Regions from separate parts of the Homo sapiens genome. Here region 1 is linked to region 2. Evidence: fine-mapped expression QTL. A gene starts in region 2. The other region holds a variant in brackets. All regions are shown on one strand. Distances are from middle to middle. Region 1 overlaps LOC124909361 (a long non-coding RNA gene). Region 2 holds the start of CRTAP (cartilage associated protein).

Region 1 (4,394 bases), 730 kb before region 2:
CTAACAGTAGGAGAAAGCCGAAGTAAGTACTTACATCTACTCAATGAGCCTTTAGAAATTAATGTACTCCCAATATCCCCTCCCAAGATTATTCAGAATCAGAATCGGCTAACACCATTATTAATGACTCCACTTTGTATTTTTAACAGATACACTTCTCAAGCTGTGCTGAACCGTGGTTGCTAGATTGGTCATTAAATCGAAGATCAGTTAACATGTTGTCTTTCTAAAAATACGTGATGGAGAAAAGTTGTGCACACAAAAATATCAGTGGCACTGAAAACTGTTTACAAGGAGTTTTTAGTAGAAAATGTTTATGGTGTAACTTTGAATTTACAAAAGGCAGAGCAAACTTGAGTAGTAAAGAGTGGCAGGATCGCAAGGTGATTTTTTATTTTGTTTTTCTGTATTTCTCCCAATTTTCTCCAGTAAGCATAAAATACATTCATAATCTGGAAATAAATATTTTTAACTAAAAGACAAGATAAAGCAGTAGTCTTAGTAGGTTGAAACAATCAGTATCCTATTTGTGGAAAAATTAAAATCTTCCAGCCTCTTTGCAAAGACAAACAAGCAGCCTGGGCAATTGCATGAGGACCACTGAGGGGACTGCACCTGTTGCCTTTGCCTTTTTTTCGGCAGGAAGTATAGTCAGCTTTGGTCATCATTTATCTCATTTATGAAAGATTTCATGGATAAAGTAAGAAAGAGAGTCTGCCTGCCTGCAAATCACTCATTTACAAATTTTGAATAACAAGATTATTGTGAAAATTTACATCTGTATACTTACTTATAGTAGGAAAAAAAAAAAACTATGAGAATTTACATTTGTATTTCTAGCCTACATGGAGAGAAGTTCTTGCATTCACACTATTCTGCTGTCTTACACAATTCCAGAACATTCGTTCACCATACTTAGAGAAGGTATAACATGTAATAGTCTTCTGTGATTTCTTAAATAGCACTGGACTTTAACTTTTTAAAAATAAGGGGTAGCTGAGCATGATGGCATGTGCCTGTAGTCCCAGCAATTTGGGAGGCTGAGGTGAGAGGATTGCTTGAGTCCAGGAATTCGAGACCAGCCTGGGCAGCATAGCAAGACCCTGTCTCTATAAAAAAAAAAATAATTACAACAGAAAAATTAGCCTAGTGCGGTAGCACACGCCTATAGTCTCAACTACTTGAGAGGCTGAGATGGGAGGATTGCTTGAGCCCAGGAGTTCGAGGCTGCAGTGAGCTCTGACCATGCCACTGCACTCCGGCCTGGGCGGCAGAGCAAGACCTTGTCTCTAAAAAATAAATAAAATTTAAAAAATAAAATAAGGGATGATGGTCATTAAGAATAGTGCTGTAATCCAGCAAAGTCCCACCCCAAATGGCCTCATTCTTAATTCCTGTGTCTACTTTTCATAGATTTATAGGCTCTTTCCTCACTGTCCAGACTGACAGTACAGTCTGTCTTTTATGATCGTACATCTCCCCTCTGCAGCAGCCTAACCCCTTCTAATGAAGTGTTCTTAATTTTCACTAGACTCGTTGGAATGGTATATAAAATGAGAGCTGGCACAGGCTGAAGGGCAGCCTCTCCTACAAGTTAAGGGCATGATCCTTAATGCTTGAGCACTTAAACTTGGTCTTAACTAAACGTTTAAGTTTAGAGAGAAAATATTAGCAAAGTGCAAATCTAATAAGGGGGTAAATATAATAAAATATATAAGGAACTCAAGAAAAAAACAACACAGTTTTAAAACGGGCAAAGCACCCGAACAGACATTTCTCAAAAGAAGATATACAAATGGCCAACAGGTATATGAAAAAATGCTCAACATCACTAATCATCAAGGAAATGCAAATCAAAACCACAATTGGGTATCGCCTCTCACTTACTAGAACAGCCATTCTCAAAAAAGATAAGCATTGGGAAGGATAAGGAGAAAAGGGAACCTTGCACGCTTGGTGGAAATGTAAATTAGTCCAGCCATTACGGAGAACAGTACGGAAGTTCCTCAAAAAGTTAAAAATAGAACAACCCTATGATCCAACAATCCCACTTCTAGGTATATACCCAAAGGAAAATAACTCAGCATGTCAAAGAGGTATCTGCAGTTTCGTGTTCATTGCAGCATTATTCACAATAACCGAGAAGTGGAAGCAACCTAAATGTCCATCAACAGACAAAGGGATAAAGAAAATGTGGGCATACAATGGAATGCTGTTCGGCTTAAAAAAAAGAAGGAAATCCTGTCATTTGCAACAACAAGGATGAACCTGGATGACATTATGCTAAGTGAAATGTCAGGCACCAGAAAGACAAATACCGCAGGATCTCACTTATATGCGGAATCTAAAGAAGTCACACTCCATAGAAGCAGAATAGAACGGTGGTTGCCAGAGCCTGATGGGAGGAGAGAGGAATGTTGGTCAAAGGGCACAAAGCTTCAGA[TAGAC/T]AGGGGGAAAAAAGTTGAAGCCTTGGTTAAAAGGCTTTTATTTTTCGTGCTTGTTTCCTTTTTATTGTTACTATAACGTTTACAGTTTTTAAATATATTTACATTCAGAAATAAGGCAAAGAGGTATCCCCAAGTTTTAAGGATAAAAACAGTTTTTAATTTTTGAAGAAATGCTTTTGATATTTTGAGAATGGTCAAGAGATTTGTCTTCTGAAAGAATTATTTATTGGTTCTGAATGCAAAACATAAATGGTGTATTCGTTTGCTGGGGCTGCCATAACACAATACCACAGACTGGGTGGCTTAATCAACAGAAATCTATTTTCTCACACTTCTGACTAGAAGCCCAAGATCAAGGTGTCGGCGGATTGAGTTTCTTCTGAGGCCTCGCTCTTTGGCTTGTAGATGGCCACCGTCTCACTGTGTCCTCACTTAGTCACCTTCTCACTGTGTCGCCTGTTCCTAATCTCCTCTTCTTACAAAGACACCAGTCATATTGAATTAGGGCACACCTTACCAACCTCATTCTAACTTAATTACCTATTTAAAGGCCCTGTCCCCAAATACAGTCATATTCCGAGGTACTGAAGGTTTGGACTTCAGCATATGAATTTGGTGGGGGGCCAGGGGAGGCATAATACAGCCCATAACAAATGGCAATGCTTTTTTCTCCCCAGATAAATGTATTTTCCCTCTGTCTCTGTCTGTCTCCCTGTCTCTCTGTCTCCACTTTTTTCTCTCCTTTCTCTGCTGGTAGCTTCATAAAGAAGTACCAGTTCTGGCAGAAAGCATTAGCACAAAGACTAATGATGCCCCACACTTGTGTGGTGTTCGATGGCCTTTCTCAACATTTCAAACCCATTTCTGGGTGAACATTTCACAAATGCAATCACTGAGGTCCGGACAATGTCACTTGCAGGCAGACCAGCAACTGGAGTCCCATTTGCTTATTCCAGAGGTCGAGAAAAGCCAAACTGGCCTTAACGCAGACCTTCTCACTGCTTAAGGAATTAGGGGCTCCTCCCCTTGTCCCATCCTTTCTACGGGTACAGCCAAAAGCATGAGGAAGCAACCCACCTGCAAGTTATAACCAATAGAGAGCACTCACAAAGCGGAATGTCCACAGGGAGGCCACAGTCTGTCTACCTGGGGAGATATGGCAAATAATCACACAGGAAGTTATCAGAAAATGAGAGTCGACTGTCTAAAGCTTCACTGCCTGATCCATCAAATGTCACCATTCCCTCACTGGCCAATGTCAAACCTTCTCTTTTTGTCAATCATGTTGAAGCACACAAACATCAGTGCTGGTTGACAGTCAACTTTATGGTGGTTTTTCTAGAGATACATTGTGGGGAGATGGGGTAATGCAGGGACCACCTGTGCAATTCAGCACCAAATTATCTCTTGCCGGCTGGAACTAAGTACAAGTGGCCACAGCCAGGAAATAATTGTTAGCAAATTTTATTGTCCACCCGCAACTGTGCACAGAGCTCTGTTTTGGGAACCTGACGGGATATCGGACAATGCACGTAAGCTGGGCGAGGGCGACGCAAAAGAGGGTGGGACTAAGCCAAGGGCAACCCAGAGGGGTGTTTTGTTTTGGTTTGTTTTGTTTTGCTAGATTCTTGCTCAAAGTGCTGTTTGCACTTGTCTGCCAATGCTCCCAACATGCCAAGCCCAACCACTTTCATCCCAGCCTATTTCAGAGGCCACTAACAGGAACCAAATACCTGAATAAGTATAATTTCATTTAGTCCTTAGCCCAATGAGGTAAGCTATGTGAACCCCATTTTGCAGATGTGGAGACTGATGTGCAGAATGGCTCTGAGGCCCCTAAATTCCAATCCAGGTCTTCTAAATCTGAATCCAGTGCTCTTTCCACTTTTTTTCTTGAATTCCCAGATGTTTCCTCTAATGTATTCCCCCCCTCTTTTTTTTTTTTTT
Region 2 (4,394 bases):
TACAGAGTTCAAATATACTCCATGACCCTACAACATGCGCAAGCTCCCCCACTGTCAATGTCTTGCACTAGAATGGTACATTTGTTACAATCAATGAACCTACATCAACACATCGTTATCACCCAAAGTCCGGTTTACATTAGGGCTCACTCTTAGTGTTGTACATATTATGGATTTTAACAAATGTATAGCATATATCCACCATTATACTATCATATAGAATAGTTTCACTGCTCCAATAATCCTGTCCTCTACCCATTCATTCCTCCCTTTCCATAATTCTCAGCAACCACTGATCCTTTTACTGTCTCCATAGTTTTGCCTTTTCCAGAATGTCATTTGGCTGGAATCACACAGTATGTAGCCTTTTCAGTTTGGCTTCTTTCAACCAGTAATATGCATTTAAGACTTCTCCATGTCTTTTCATGGCTTGATAGCTCATTTCTTTTTGGCTTGGAATAAAATTCCATTGTGTGTATATACCACAGTTTATGTATCCACTTACCCACTGAAGGACATCTTGGTTGATTCCAAGTTATGGTAATTGTGAATAAAGTTGCTACAAACATCCATTCGCAGGTGTGTGCATAAGTTTTAACCCATTTGGGTAAATACCAAGAAGTGCAATTTCTGGATTGTATGAGTAGAGTATGCCTAGTTTTGTAAGAAACGGCCCAACTGTCTTCTAAACTGTATGTACCATTTTGCATTGCCACTATCAATGAATGAGAGTTCCTGTTGCTCCACATCCTTGTCAGCATGTGACGTTGTCAGTGTTTTGGATTTTGTAGTGGTATCTCATTGCTGTTTTGGCCTATATTTTTCAAAAATGACAACGGCATGACAAGAAAAGCCGAGGAACCAGTTTAAAGGATATGAAATAGACTAGATGTAACAGTGATCACGGATGGACTGCATCCTAAGAGAAAAAAGTGCCATGAAAGACATAATTGGAACAGCTGACATAACCGGAAATGGAACATGATTAAAGTCTTCTATCAGTATTAAATTTCCTAAATTTGATTGTCTGGTAGTTTCATTCTTAGGACATACATACTGAAAGACTAAGGGGTTGGGCACGGTGGCTCACGCCTGTAATCCCAGCACTTTGGGAGGCAGAGGCAGGTAGATCACCTAAGGTCAGGAGTTCAAGAACAGCCTGGCCAACATGGCAAAACCTCATCTCTAGTAAAAAATAGAAAAATTAGCCAGGTATGGTGGTGTGTGCCTATGATCCCAGCTACTCGGGAGGCTAAGGCAGGGAGAATTGCTTGAACCCGGGAGGCGGAGGTTGCAGTGAGCCGAGATCGCGCCACTGCACTCCAGCCTGGGTGACAGGGCGAGACTCCGTCTCAAAAAAAAAAAAAGGAAAAAAAAAAAGAAAAAAAAAAGACTAACGGACAGTGGGCCTGATACATGCAACCTATCTCAAATGAGTCAGAAAAAAATGTAAAGATAGAAATGTGGTATAACGTTAGCAACTTGTGAATCTTGATGAAGGGTATATAGGAACTTTTTGTACTGTTTTTGCAGCTTTCTTGTAAATTATTTCAAGATTTAAAAGTTTAAAGATTTTTTAAAAGTGCTGCCATTAACATTCCATCCATATTTTTTGATGCACACGCGCAAGCTTCTCCAGCATATTCCACCGAATGGTGTTGCAGATTCATAAGGTGTGCACATCTTCAACCTGACTAGCTATACAGTTTACAAAGTGCTGACATCCTTATTAATTTTATTTTTGCACTGTCTTTTTCTCTCACTAAAATTTAAGGTTGGGCAGTGCTATTAAAAGTGCGGCCCTTGGGCCCGCAGCATTAGCCTCATCAGGGTGCTGGTTAAACACACAAATCGTCAGACCTCCACCCCAGACTTTCTGAATCAGAAACTCTGGGGGCACAGCCCAGGAATCTTCGTTTTCACAAACCTCCAAACGAATATAAAGATCGTAGATTATATAGACCGTAGGGCCGATGTATATAATCTATTAGGGCCGCGTCGGCCTTGCAGGCGGGTCTCCAAGTGAATGAGCGGCAGAGTCCCATCATGCGCATCAGCCTGCGTGAACCAGTGCGCAGCGCGCCTTTCCCGGGCACCCTCTAGGTGCTGGCAGCTGGCGCCCAGATCCCCCGGCTGGGTGGGGAGGGGCGGCCGGACGGGGCGGGCCGGAGGCTGGCGTCCCCGCCCCGAAAGCACTGGGCCCGCCGCGTCGCACCGTCCTCTTTCCTTTCCTTCTCCCTCCCCTTTTCCCTTCCTTCGTCCCTTCCTTCCTTCCTTTCGCCGGGCGCGATGGAGCCGGGGCGCCGGGGGGCCGCGGCGCTGCTAGCGCTGCTGTGCGTGGCCTGCGCGCTGCGCGCCGGGCGCGCCCAATACGAACGCTACAGCTTCCGCAGCTTCCCACGGGACGAGCTGATGCCGCTCGAGTCGGCCTACCGGCACGCGCTGGACAAGTACAGCGGCGAGCACTGGGCCGAGAGCGTGGGCTACCTGGAGATCAGCCTGCGGCTGCACCGCTTGCTGCGCGACAGCGAGGCCTTCTGCCACCGCAACTGCAGCGCCGCGCCGCAGCCCGAGCCCGCCGCCGGCCTCGCCAGCTATCCCGAGCTGCGCCTCTTCGGGGGCCTGCTGCGCCGCGCGCACTGCCTCAAGCGCTGCAAGCAGGGCCTGCCAGCCTTCCGCCAGTCCCAGCCCAGCCGCGAGGTGCTGGCGGACTTCCAGCGCCGCGAGCCCTACAAGTTCCTGCAGTTCGCTTACTTCAAGGCAAGTCCGCCTCGCCCCGTCCCAGGCCCCGGCCCCGCCCCTGACCCAGCCTCCAGGCCCTAGCCCCGCCCCTGCGCCCGGGGCCGCGTTGCCCCTCCAGTTCTAGACCTGGCTCCCTCCCATCCAGCCCTGCCAAAGGTCTCCTCCAAGTCCTGTCTCCTTCTTCATCTCAACTAGAGATGAAAATGCCTTTCTTGAAGGGTAACTCTAAGGTAGAGAATACGTACACAGAACGCAGTACAGCGCCAGGCACCCAACAAAGTGCCTGATAAATGTTCTCTGTTATTTGAGGGCAGACGCCTCTTTTCTGTATATACCATTAAAGTCGCCTTTTTTCTCAAGTGAGCGGTGACTTGCGATAATAAAGCAGAAGACCTGAGGAGCCGACAAGTACCTTTTATTTTTATTTTTTGTTGAGACAGGGTCTCACAGTCGCCCAGGCTGGAGTGCAGAGGCGCTATCATGGCTCACTGCAGCCTTGACCTCCTCAGGCTCAGGTGATCCTCCACCTCAGCCTCCTGAGTAGCTGGGATTATAGGCGCGCGCCACCACACCTAGCTAATTTTTTGGTATTTTCTGTAGAGACAGAGTTTCGCCACGTTGCCCAGGCTGATCTCGAACTCCCGGACTCAAGTGATCCTCCCACCTCGCCTCCCAGAGTTCTGGGATTACAGTCGTGAGCCATTGCACCCAGCTGACTAGTTCCTTTTAAAGAGGATGAAATTGAGGCCAGGGAAGGGCAGGGACTCCTTGCAAGGACACATCCCTGCTTAAAGGGGAACTCGTGCACCGTGAGTCATCAGGATTGGCCCTCTCCGCTGTTTCTCTCTTTCATCTAGAATTTAACACAGTTCACTGCCTCCTTTTAATGGCTGCTTAAGTTCTCTCTGTGATTGCTGGCTAAAAATAGCCACAAATTGCAGTTCTCTATCCTATGGGTTCTCACTCCGAGGACCCACAAGTTTTAAGAATGGTTAGATTCCCTGTCACTAGATAAAGAGGCTCTAGCTTGGTGGGTCCTCACAGGGTTTGGCTAAAAGAGCCCTCTCAAAGCCCAGTTTCTACTTTCTCTGAGAAAGATTTTAAAAGGAATATATTGTGTTTTTTAAAATTACTACAAAAATAGATTCATGGCATATCCTAGACTCTTGAGGTAGAAGGTTTTTGTTTTTAAACTTTGTTTTCAGTTTCTGGACTGCAAGATCTGTTTTTTCAGATTTCCACCGAGACAGAGCCACGTGTATATTGTATTTATATGAGCAATAAAATAACACAAAACCCCAAAGAGGGGAAAAGCTGGGTTACTTCTATACTTCTATGCTTAGTTACAGTTTTATTTAAAGTATCAGTTTTGTGAATGTTTGTTCTGGCAATTAAAAAAAAACAGTTTTAAAACAGAAGCAGGGAATGAGATTAATAAAATTCCAGAATGTTGAAAATGAGGGCTGGTTCATACAAAGCATCATTTTTTAAGCTAAAAATGACTTATCTAATTCTTTTTTTGTATAGCTTTTGGCAAATATGTTCTGAACCAAATTTAGGTCACATAATCAAGAGGAAATCATTTTATTTTTAAACCTAGAGAATACTAGAACCTCTGATTTCTTTAATATACAGATGAATTTGAACAAGTG

The links. PIP is the estimated chance that this variant, and not a neighbour inherited with it, causes the effect.
Region 1: its variant is the best candidate, but not a certain one, in a credible set for the expression of CRTAP in skeletal muscle (GTEx, PIP 0.58).

What each region holds. Positions count from the first base shown.
Region 1 is chr3:32,378,026-32,382,419 of GRCh38, forward strand. LOC124909361 (a long non-coding RNA gene) reads left to right here. Exons shown (of 2, transcript XR_007095859.1): 1 at 1-22; 2 at 150-478. Among named protein-coding and RNA genes, the nearest start is that of CMTM7, 12 kb to the right of the region's middle. The variant TAGAC/T (reference allele first, on the strand shown) is at 2,444.
Region 2 is chr3:33,111,789-33,116,182 of GRCh38, forward strand. CRTAP (cartilage associated protein) reads left to right here and starts at 2,226. Exons shown (of 7, transcript NM_006371.5): 1 at 2,226-2,760. The coding sequence starts at 2,290. RefSeq lists enhancers at 1-56, 2,937-3,928 and silencers at 2,056-2,355, 2,796-2,985.